Homo sapiens: one gene and its partner. The protein of the gene in region 1 interacts with the protein of each later gene in a pairwise test. Each region holds a gene or a part of one and is shown on either strand. Other genes may lie near its edges.

Evidence for each region. Proteins that work in one complex are often made in the same cells at the same time.
Region 2: the proteins of RBPMS2 (region 1) and AOC1 interact in binary tests that used the Homo sapiens proteins (3 or more experiments, as listed by UniProt).

The regions. Positions count from the first base shown.
Region 1 is NC_000015.10:64,741,518-64,745,353, forward strand, and holds part of RBPMS2 (RNA-binding protein with multiple splicing 2), read right to left. Parts: intron 1-3,836.
Region 2 is NC_000007.14:150,850,188-150,855,680, forward strand, and holds the start of AOC1 (diamine oxidase [copper-containing] isoform 2 precursor), read left to right. Parts: upstream 1-2,329; 5' UTR 2,330-2,371; intron 2,372-3,916; exon of another isoform or gene 3,917-3,976; intron 3,977-5,493. UniProt on the Homo sapiens protein: Catalyzes the oxidative deamination of primary amines to the corresponding aldehydes with the concomitant production of hydrogen peroxide and ammonia.

The DNA of each region.
Region 1 (3,836 bases):
TATACTGGTGGGAGCCCTGGCAGCTGGGGGCAGTGGTGCCAGCAACCCGCCCTTCCCCTTTACTGACACAGCACGGAATTCCTAATTCTGTGGAGGAGGAGGAAAAGAATGAGCCTCATACATTTTTGTTTGACTTCTTTGGGTCTCAGTGTTCTCATCTAGCTATAGGACAGAAATGACGAAGTCATATGTGGTTGTGAGGATCAGGTAAGACAGGATGTAAAGATACAGTAAGGCCGGGTGCAGTGGCACACACCTGTAATCCCAACACTTTGGGAAGCTGAGGTGGGAGGATCACATGGGCTCAGGAGTTCAAGACCAGCCTGGGCAACATAGGGAGATAATGTCTCTATTAAAACCAAACAAGGCCGGGCGCAGCGGCTCACGCCTGTAATCCCAGCACTTTCGGAGGCCGAGGTGGGCGGACCACCTGAGGTTCAGAGTTCGAGACCAGCCTGACCAATATGGAGAAACCCCATCTCTACTAAAAATACAAATTAGCCGGGCGTAGTGGTGCATGCCTGTAATCCCAGCTACTCGGGAGGCTGAGGCAAGGAGAATCGCTCGAACCCGGGAGGCGGAGGTTGCAGTGAGTTGAGATCGCGCCATTGCACTCCCGCCTGGGCAACAAGAACAAAACTCCGTCTCCAACAAAAACAAAAACAAAAAACAAAACAAAACCCAAAGTCCGTGTAGACCCCAAGGGGTAGGACTCTCCAACATCAGTCCTGATTCTTCTGAGAAGCCATGGATGAGACCCAGCTGAGGCTCCCGTTTTGACCTTCCCACCCCTGCTGTGCCATGCCCTCCATCACAAGCCTCTAAGTCCAGAGGTCTATAACGTCAGGTGGGCGGCAGCTATCTGAGATCATCCTCACCAGTGCCTGGAAGTTGCCTAAACCCTGGCACTTGCCAGAAGGCCCCACAGAGCAGTAGCCCCAAAGCTGGGTTCCCAGAGACTGGTCAAGAAAATGGCACGTTCCCTCCTCCCTGTGGGCCAGTCATCTGGAAGGCAAGTATGCTGACTGCCAAGACCGCAGGGAAGGCCGCCTGCCCCAGTTATGCACGGTGAAGCATGTCTGTCCCAGCCTGACCCAGGACAGGGAAAGGGGTGTGGCGGGGGGAGCGGGACAACACAGGACCTTGAGTTGCGGTTGGGGGATGAGCATCCAGGGAGGGGAGCTGGAGTCCCCTCAGGAAGGGAAGGGGCAGCACATGAGCGTGTGGCAGGAAAGGAGTAGAAGCTGGGCCTGCAGACAGCTCCCTTGAGGTTGGAGCAGGCAGACCCAGTTACCCACTTGGCTGCTGGGAACTCCTGCTTCCTGGGTAAGCCATGCCAGGCCGTCTGGGGGCTGATGGAAGCTTCCTAAGAACCCGTTCCTATCCCCGCCAAATTCTAGGTGCTGTTTTGTACACTGCAGAATTCCAGCCACCACATCCCAGGAGCTCAGCGGGAAGTTAGAAACCTGGCTGGACACTAGCACTTATTCCACAAGAGAGGGACACACGAGGAAACGAGCAATGCTGCTATCAGAGAAGCCGGCGGCTGGCACCAGCTCAGGGAGCCCCTTAGTGGGCCCTGACCACTGCCCTTCATGTAGCCTCCGGCAGCCCCACAGCAAGGAAATCCCGGACGGGCTGGGTGTCCCGCAGGGCCGGACAAGGGGAGAACATGGACGACAGAATGGAAGGAGCTCAGGAGGCCTGCAACCCAACCTCTTTCACCACTGGGAAGCTAAGGCCTTGAATGACTGCCTAAGGCCGCCCTCAGCATATCTGCTGGATCCTGCCCTACACTCTCGCTACAAGGTGCTGGGATTCCTGCTTCCCAAGCAGCGACTTTCCCTCCAGCCTGAGGGACTCCTTGGGGAGAAAGTGGAGGAAAGCTCCCATATTTGGGCTTGGGACAGCTGTGCCACTGAAGCAGACGGAATGCATTTAGAAGGGCTGCTTTTCCGCTTCCTCCGGGTGCCTGGCATAGGCCAGTGGCCTGGGTCCTCTAGAAGCCACACAATCCCTTCCTAGAGCTCTTCTTTCTGCTCCAGCTACAGGAGACCCCCAGGGGGCCAGGCCAGCAAGACAGGGCACCCGCAGTGTCCTTTCAGGGCCTCCAGTTGTGCCCAGGGGGGGGGGGGCTCCTGAGAGTACCCCCCACAGGCTATAGTGACCAGGTTCCGAGAGGGCTGCTTCAAAACAAAGAGCGGAGGATGCAAACTCAGCCGTCTCTCAGATCCTGGGACTGACCAGTTGAGAAGATACACCAGAAAGCAAGCAACGGGATGAACCTACATAAGAATAAATATAAGGCCAGGTGTGACAGCTCACGCCTGTAATCCCAGCACTCTAGGAGGCAGAGGTGGGCGGATCTCTTGAGCCCAGAAGTTTGAGACCAGCATGGCCACCATTACGAAACCCCGTCTCTGCAAAAAAATACAAAAATTAGCTGGGCGTGGTAGCACACACCTGTAATCCCAGCAATTTGGGAGGCTGAGGCAGGAGGATCGTGCTTGAGCCCAGGAGGCAGAGGTTGCAAAGAGCAAAGGTCATGCCACTGCACTCTAGCCTGGGCAACGGAGTGAGACTCTGTCTCAAAAAAATAAAAATAACTAAAAAAAGAGAAAGGAAAAAAAAAAGATATAAACAACCAAAGATATGGAAGCCTCACTTATCCGAAATTAAAACATTTAACCCAGACTGGTAAGTCTACACTTTCACCGTGTCATAGTTCTAGGAATTTATCATAAAGAAAACAAAACAATGGCTGGGCGCGGTGGCTCATGCCTGTAATCCCAGCACTTTGGGAGGCCGAGGCGGACGGATCACCTGAGGTCGAGAGTTCGAGACCAGCCTGACCAACACGGAGAAACCCCATCTCTACTAAAAATACAAAATCAGCTGGGCGTGGTGGTACATGCCTGTAATCCCAGCTACTAGGGAGGCTGAGGCAGAAGAATCACTTGAACCTGGGAGGCGGAGGTTGAGGTGAGCTAAGATCACACCATTGCACTCCAGCCTGGGCAACAAGAGTGAAACTCTGTCTCAAAAAAAAAAAAAAAGAAAGAAAGAAAACAAAACAGAAGAGGTGCCCAGAAGTACACACAAGGATATCCATTGTTGTATAGCTATCAGTAAGCAAAACTGTATAAACAAACCAATTTACCATCTACAGGGAGCTGGACACATTCGTACAATGGTGTACTAGCCAGGTATCCAAAATGTAGAGCTACACTTACTATTATTTATTTTAAGTCCTAATATTTAAGTTTTTTTGGTTTGTTTTGTTTTTTTTTTTTTTTTTTTTTTTTTTTTTTTTTTGAGACAGAGTCTCGCTCTGTCACCCAGGCTAGAGTGCAGTGGCGCGATCTTGGCTCACTGCAACCTCTGCCTCCTGGGTTCAAGCGATTCTCCTGCCTCAGCCTCCTGAGTAGCTGGGGTTACAGGTGCCCGCCACCACGCCCAGCTAATTTTTGTATTTTTATAGAGACGGGGTTTCACCGTGTTAGCCAGGCTGGTCTTGACCACCTGACCTCAGGTAATCTGCCCACCTCGGCCTCCCAAAGTACTGGGATTACAGGCATGAGCCACTGCGCCTGGCCCTAATATTTAAGTTTTTAAAAGATTAAATATGTATTGCAGTTTTTCTAAGATTCATACCTATAGATTTACTTATACACCTGCTCCAAACTACCTATCGAACTGAAGAATTAAAAGTACAGGTTTTCTGGGGATTGGATGATAAGCCAAAGGGAAGAGAACAAAAACTGCCTGTTTTTTTCCATAAATGCAGATATGCTAATACAATAATAGCTCCTGCTCATGAAGCACCTCCCCTGTGC
Region 2 (5,493 bases), on another chromosome or scaffold:
GAACTTTTTAATCACCTCAAAAAGAAACCCCATAAGCATTAGCTCTCACCCCATCCCTCCATCGCACCCCAGCCCTAAGCAACCACTAATGTGCTTCTCATCTGCTTGAGAGATTTACCTACCCCACACGTTTCATATAAATGGAATAATGTGGTCTTTTGTGACTGGCTTCTTTCATTTGCCGTAGTGGTTTTAAGGTTCATCCACATTGTGTCATGTAACAGTGATTCCTTCCTTTTTATGACTGAATGATGTTCCATTGAGTGGATAGACCACATTTTGTTGACTCATTTATCAATGCAGAGACATATGAGTCGTCTCCACTGTTTGGCTATTGTGAATAACACTGCAGTAAACACTCTGGTACAGGTTTCCCCATGGACATAGGCTTTCCTTTCTCTTGAGCATATACCCAGGAGTGGGATTGCTGGGTTATATGATAACAACGTTAAGTCATTTGAGGAACAGCCAGACAGTTTTCCGAAGTGGCTGCGTCATCTCACCATGAACTGCCTGTGAGGCTTCCAGTTTCTCTGCCTCCTGGCCCCACCTGTTATTACCTTGCTTTTGAATTCTAGCCATCCTAGTGGATATAAAGTGGTATCTCCTGGTGGTTTTGATTTGCATCCCCTGATGACTAATGACATTGAACAGCTTTCCATGTGCATATTGGCCATTTGTGTATCTTCGTGAGGGGAATATCTATTCAGATCTTTGGCTCATTTTTAATTGGATTATTTGCCTCTTATTATGGAATTGGAAGAGTTCTTCTTACATTCTAGATATAATTTTCTTATCAGATATATAATCTGTGAATATTTTCTCCCATTCTATGCTTTGTCTTTTCATTTTCCTGTGGGTGTCCTTTGAAGCATAAAAGTCTTTTAATACTGATGATGTCAATTTATCTATTTTTTTTTCTTTGGTTATTTGTGCTTTGAGGTCACATCCAAGAATTAGATGTAAAGTCAAGCAGATTTACTCCTATGTTTTCTTTTTAAGAGTTTTACAGTTTTAGCTCTTACATGTATGTCTTTGGTCCCTTTCGAGTCCGTTTCCGTGTGTGAAAGGGTCTAACTCCATCATGTGCATGTGGCCCCTTTCCCTTTAAATCTTTGCAAGTCTCTTTTCTCGATCCATCCTCACTCCATTAACTTTGTCGCAGTTTCCTTTGTGGAATGGAAACAGATTGTAGTCCTCAAAATCAGGTTGTTCCTGAAACTCTCTTCTAATCCAAATCCCCCCAATTCTCTGCGGAGTTGGTGAGCCCATAACTGAGAATACATAACTCACAGTCCTCTTGAACACTGAGGGTGAAAGACGTTAGCATTCATTGTCTTTGTATCAATCATCATTTTAACATGGAAGGCAAATCCCCTTCCTCAGAAACACCAAAGACCTTCTGGAATTGCAAGCAAGCTTCAAGTTGACTAAGTGTGTTCACCTTCCTTCATCTAGCTGCCAGTGCACACTGAAATGGCTTGCATTGCGGGCAGCAGGAAGGATGATGATGAGAAATACAAAACCCCTATAACCACAAAGCGGTGTGCAATCCCTGAGCAACCAAACCTTGGTAATGGGGGATGATGACCCCTTGGCACTCCTGAGCCACGAACTTTTCCTGACTCTATTCTTTCCTTTCCAACTAGGAGTTACCCCGGTCACCACGTTCGCCCTTCTCAACCTGACTAAGTGGGCGTTAGCACTGTCCGCCCACTGCATGGGCACTACCTGCCCCAGTGTCCTCTCCCCTCTCCGCTCTGTGCCATAGCCTTAGCTACCCTGGCCAGCTTTCTCCCAGCCAAGTCCTTCCTCCTTTCTGAATCTGGTCAGGGTCTCAAAGATCGTTAAAAAGCCGCCAAAGTTTGCAACTCGTCTTGAGTGGCTGCTCCTCCCAAACGGTTCTGCCTCTGGTGTCTTGTTCTAGGAGCGGTTGAATTCTCTGTTTTGCTGTGGGTGCCAGCCTCTATCAGCCCCTGCCCTGGTCCATCTGTCAGCTTCAGGTAAGACTACCGGCTAGGAAATGGCCCCTTGTCCTTATCTCTGCCTCTAAAATATGCCACCTAAATTAACAGATCGTGGCATTGCATGGCTCGTCACAGAGAAGCCAAGGCAAATTCTTGTGGAAGGCGGCACTTGTCTGGAAACAGACTCAGGACAAGTGTGCTGCACAGCCAGCTTCCTCAAACCCACTCTCGCCACTGTAGCTGCCCACAGAGGCACCTCCCAAGCCATAGGCCCCTCCTAGGCCAGCTCAGGCCTCACCTTGTCCCTCCCTGCAGGGCGGGGTCTGATTGACTTCAAGAAGGAGTCAGAGATCAGCTTAAGGGCAAAGGCTGGAAGCAGAGCGAACTGGGAGCAGAGCACACAGGTGCGTTCTGATGGGTATTCGGGAGAGTCAAGAAGGGGCTGACCTGGAGGACAGAAAAGCAGTGGAAGGAGGGCACAGAGTGAGGGGCAGAAGAAACAGGACACAGAGGGAGGAGGGCCAGGAAGTGAGGGCGGGAGCCCAGCACATCACAGAAGGTGCCCGGGTGCTTGGTGGCAGGCAACAGCCGGCCAGGGTGGAGTGGGGAAAGCTCAGAGAGGAGGGTGAGCAGGGAGAGGGCTTGCTTCCTGTTCCTGCCTGGAGGTCTCACCAGCCACCACCCCCACTGCCACTGCACATGGGGACAGAGGTTTGTCCTGGGGAAAGCAAAGGTCTCTTCCACATCTTTCTCCTTCCTGGAAAAGCAAAAAGAAACGTGGGTATAAGAGGTTGTAAAAAAGGAGACCCAGCCGTGAAAGGACATGGAGGTACCCTAAATGCACACTGCCAAGCAAAAGAAGCCAATCTGAAAAGGCTGCAGACTGTAAGATTCCAAATACAGGACGTTCTGGAAAAGGCAAAACTATGGAGACAATAAAAAGAGCAGTGATTGCTAGGGTTTCGGAGGAAGAGGTGGAGCACAGAAGATTTTGGGGGAGGTGGAACTATTCTGTGTGATATTCTAATGGTGGATCCATGTCATTGTCCGTTTGTCCAACCCATAGAATATGCAGCAGCAAGAGTGAGTCCTGATGTAAACTGTGGGCTCTGGGTGAGAGTGATGTGCAGGTTCATCAGCCACAAATGTATGGCTCTGGTGTGGATATTGATAGTGGGGAGGCTGCGTGTGTAGGGGCTGTGAGTATACAGAAACTCTCAGTACCTTTCGCTCAATTTTGCTATGAACCTAAAATTCCTCTTTAAAAGACTCCTATTTAAAAGACTTTAATAGACTTTATAAAGTTTGTTAAAAGACTTTTAATAGACTTTTTAAAGACTTTTAACAGACTTTATAAAGTCTATTAAGAAATCTATTAAAGTCTATTTTTAAAAGTCTATTAAAAAAAAAGTCTACTATAATCCCAGCACTTTGGGAGGCCAACGCAGGAGGATCACTTGAGCCCAGGAGTTCAAGACCAGCCTGGGCAACATAGTGAGATCCTGACTATATATATATATATATATATATATATATATATATATTTATTTATTTATTTATTTAAGTCTAATAAGAAGTCTATTTGGGGCCAGGCCTGGTGGCTCATGCCTGTAATCCCAGCACTTTGGGAGGCTGAGGCAGGTGGACCACTTGAGGTCAGGAATTCAAGACCAGCCTGACCAACACGGTGAAACACCATCTCTACTAAAAACAAAAAATTAGCCGGGCATGGTGGTGCACACCTGTAATCCCAACTATTCCAGAGGCTGAGGCAGGAGAATTGCTTGAACCTGGGAGGCAGAGGTAGCAGTGAGCCAAGATCGCATCACTGCACTCCAGCCTGGGCTACAGAGCAAGACTGTCTCAGGAAAAAGAAAAAATAGTCTATTTAAAGAAGAAAAAAAAGAGGCCTGGCCAATATTTAATAGGAGAACACAAGAACTCACCTCATATCCTTCCTGCTGGCTCTGGGTTCCGCCTGCAGCCCCTGCCTCACCTGCTCCCTCCAGGTAAGCAGGGCCTCCGAGAGCCCAAGATCATGTGGGTTCCAGGGTCTTCTGCCAGCACCAGAGGGCAAGACAAGGCAACTAGAGGGACATCCCCATGAGAGGCCATGACCATGGAGCAAAACGAGGGCAAGGGGAGAGCCCTCGGGGAGAGGGGCATGGGAAAGGGAGAGAAGGACATCTCAGATCAGCCTTTACCGTGGCCTCCAGGGCTAGAGAGCCCTCGGGTGATGGAACAGGCCCAGCCAACACCTTTCATTTGTCTATGAATCAAGAACTGCCCATCGTGTACAAATTAAATACAAAGTGCTAAGGGGACTAGTGGAGAAGTATGTTAGTTGGGGCCAAAAACAGCATTCCTCGGCAGTGCGGGGTTTCAGCTGACCTCAAAAGGTGGCAAAGGATGTGACACTGGCCCAGAGTCGGGTGGGAAGGGACAATGTGCAGCTGAGCTTCTCTGGAGGAAAAAAGCCACGGGAAAACAGGGCCTCTAGTTAACACATGGGTTGTGTTCCCAACGCTTGTGCTTCGGAAATGTGATGTGTAAATGCATTTTCCAAAAACAAAAGCAAGAAATGAAAAGCGCTCATGATGGTCAGGTTTCCTCAGTGGGTCACTCCACGATACACCCAAAGTGGAGCTGCTGCACCTCAGTTACACCTCACACCCTGTGCCGCCGACTTTCCAGGTGAAATCCTCGGGGCCTCCCTTGCAGGCAGCCTGGGCCCCCTGGGAAGAGGCTGGGCCAGGCAGAGGTCTGAGACAGGAGTGGATTAACCCTCTCTGCTACCTGTCTGTCTGCACAGGAGAACGAGTTTTCTCCAGGTTTACCCCCAGGGCTTCTGATTTAGGGAGCAAAAGGCAACTACCTATGAAAATATGAAAACAAGGATCTCTCAGAGTCCAACCCACTCATGCATCCACCTTATAAATCAAGTGTCTGTGCCTCAGGCACTGCTTGCAGGAAGTGAAAAGCACAGCTGAGACAGGGAGGAATCCTGAAGCGGGGCTCCCAGCTCAACCCAGAGCCTTGAGGAAGGGGGTGCAAGGTGGCAAAGGCAGTGCTTCTGTAGGGAAATTTCACGGTGACGGCAGCCTTCCAGGGAGGCCCACATCACCTAGGAGGACAAGTTAGGGTCTGGAGAAACTAAGGCTGGGAGACAGCTCCAGCCAGCATCTGTAGCAACAGCGCAACAGGCAAGAGTAACAGTCTCCCAGAGACTCCGCACACAGCACATGGGAAGACAGAGCTGTGGCCACCACGTCTCCCAGCCCTGCAGGAGGCTCACAGCTACAAGCACAGGATTTTACAGCTGCTTGGGGAATGGGGTTATGAGGTGAAGACCCTGACCCACCCTCCCTGAGAAAGGAAAAGGCATCTTCCTAAGATGAAACCCTCCCTGAGGTCCCCTCCTAGTAGCCTTGGGTGGACAAGAGAGGTGAATGGGGCACAAAGAAGGCTAGGCAGGACTGGGCACCTCTACCTCACCCCCAAAGCCATCAGTCTGCAGCCTAGTCAC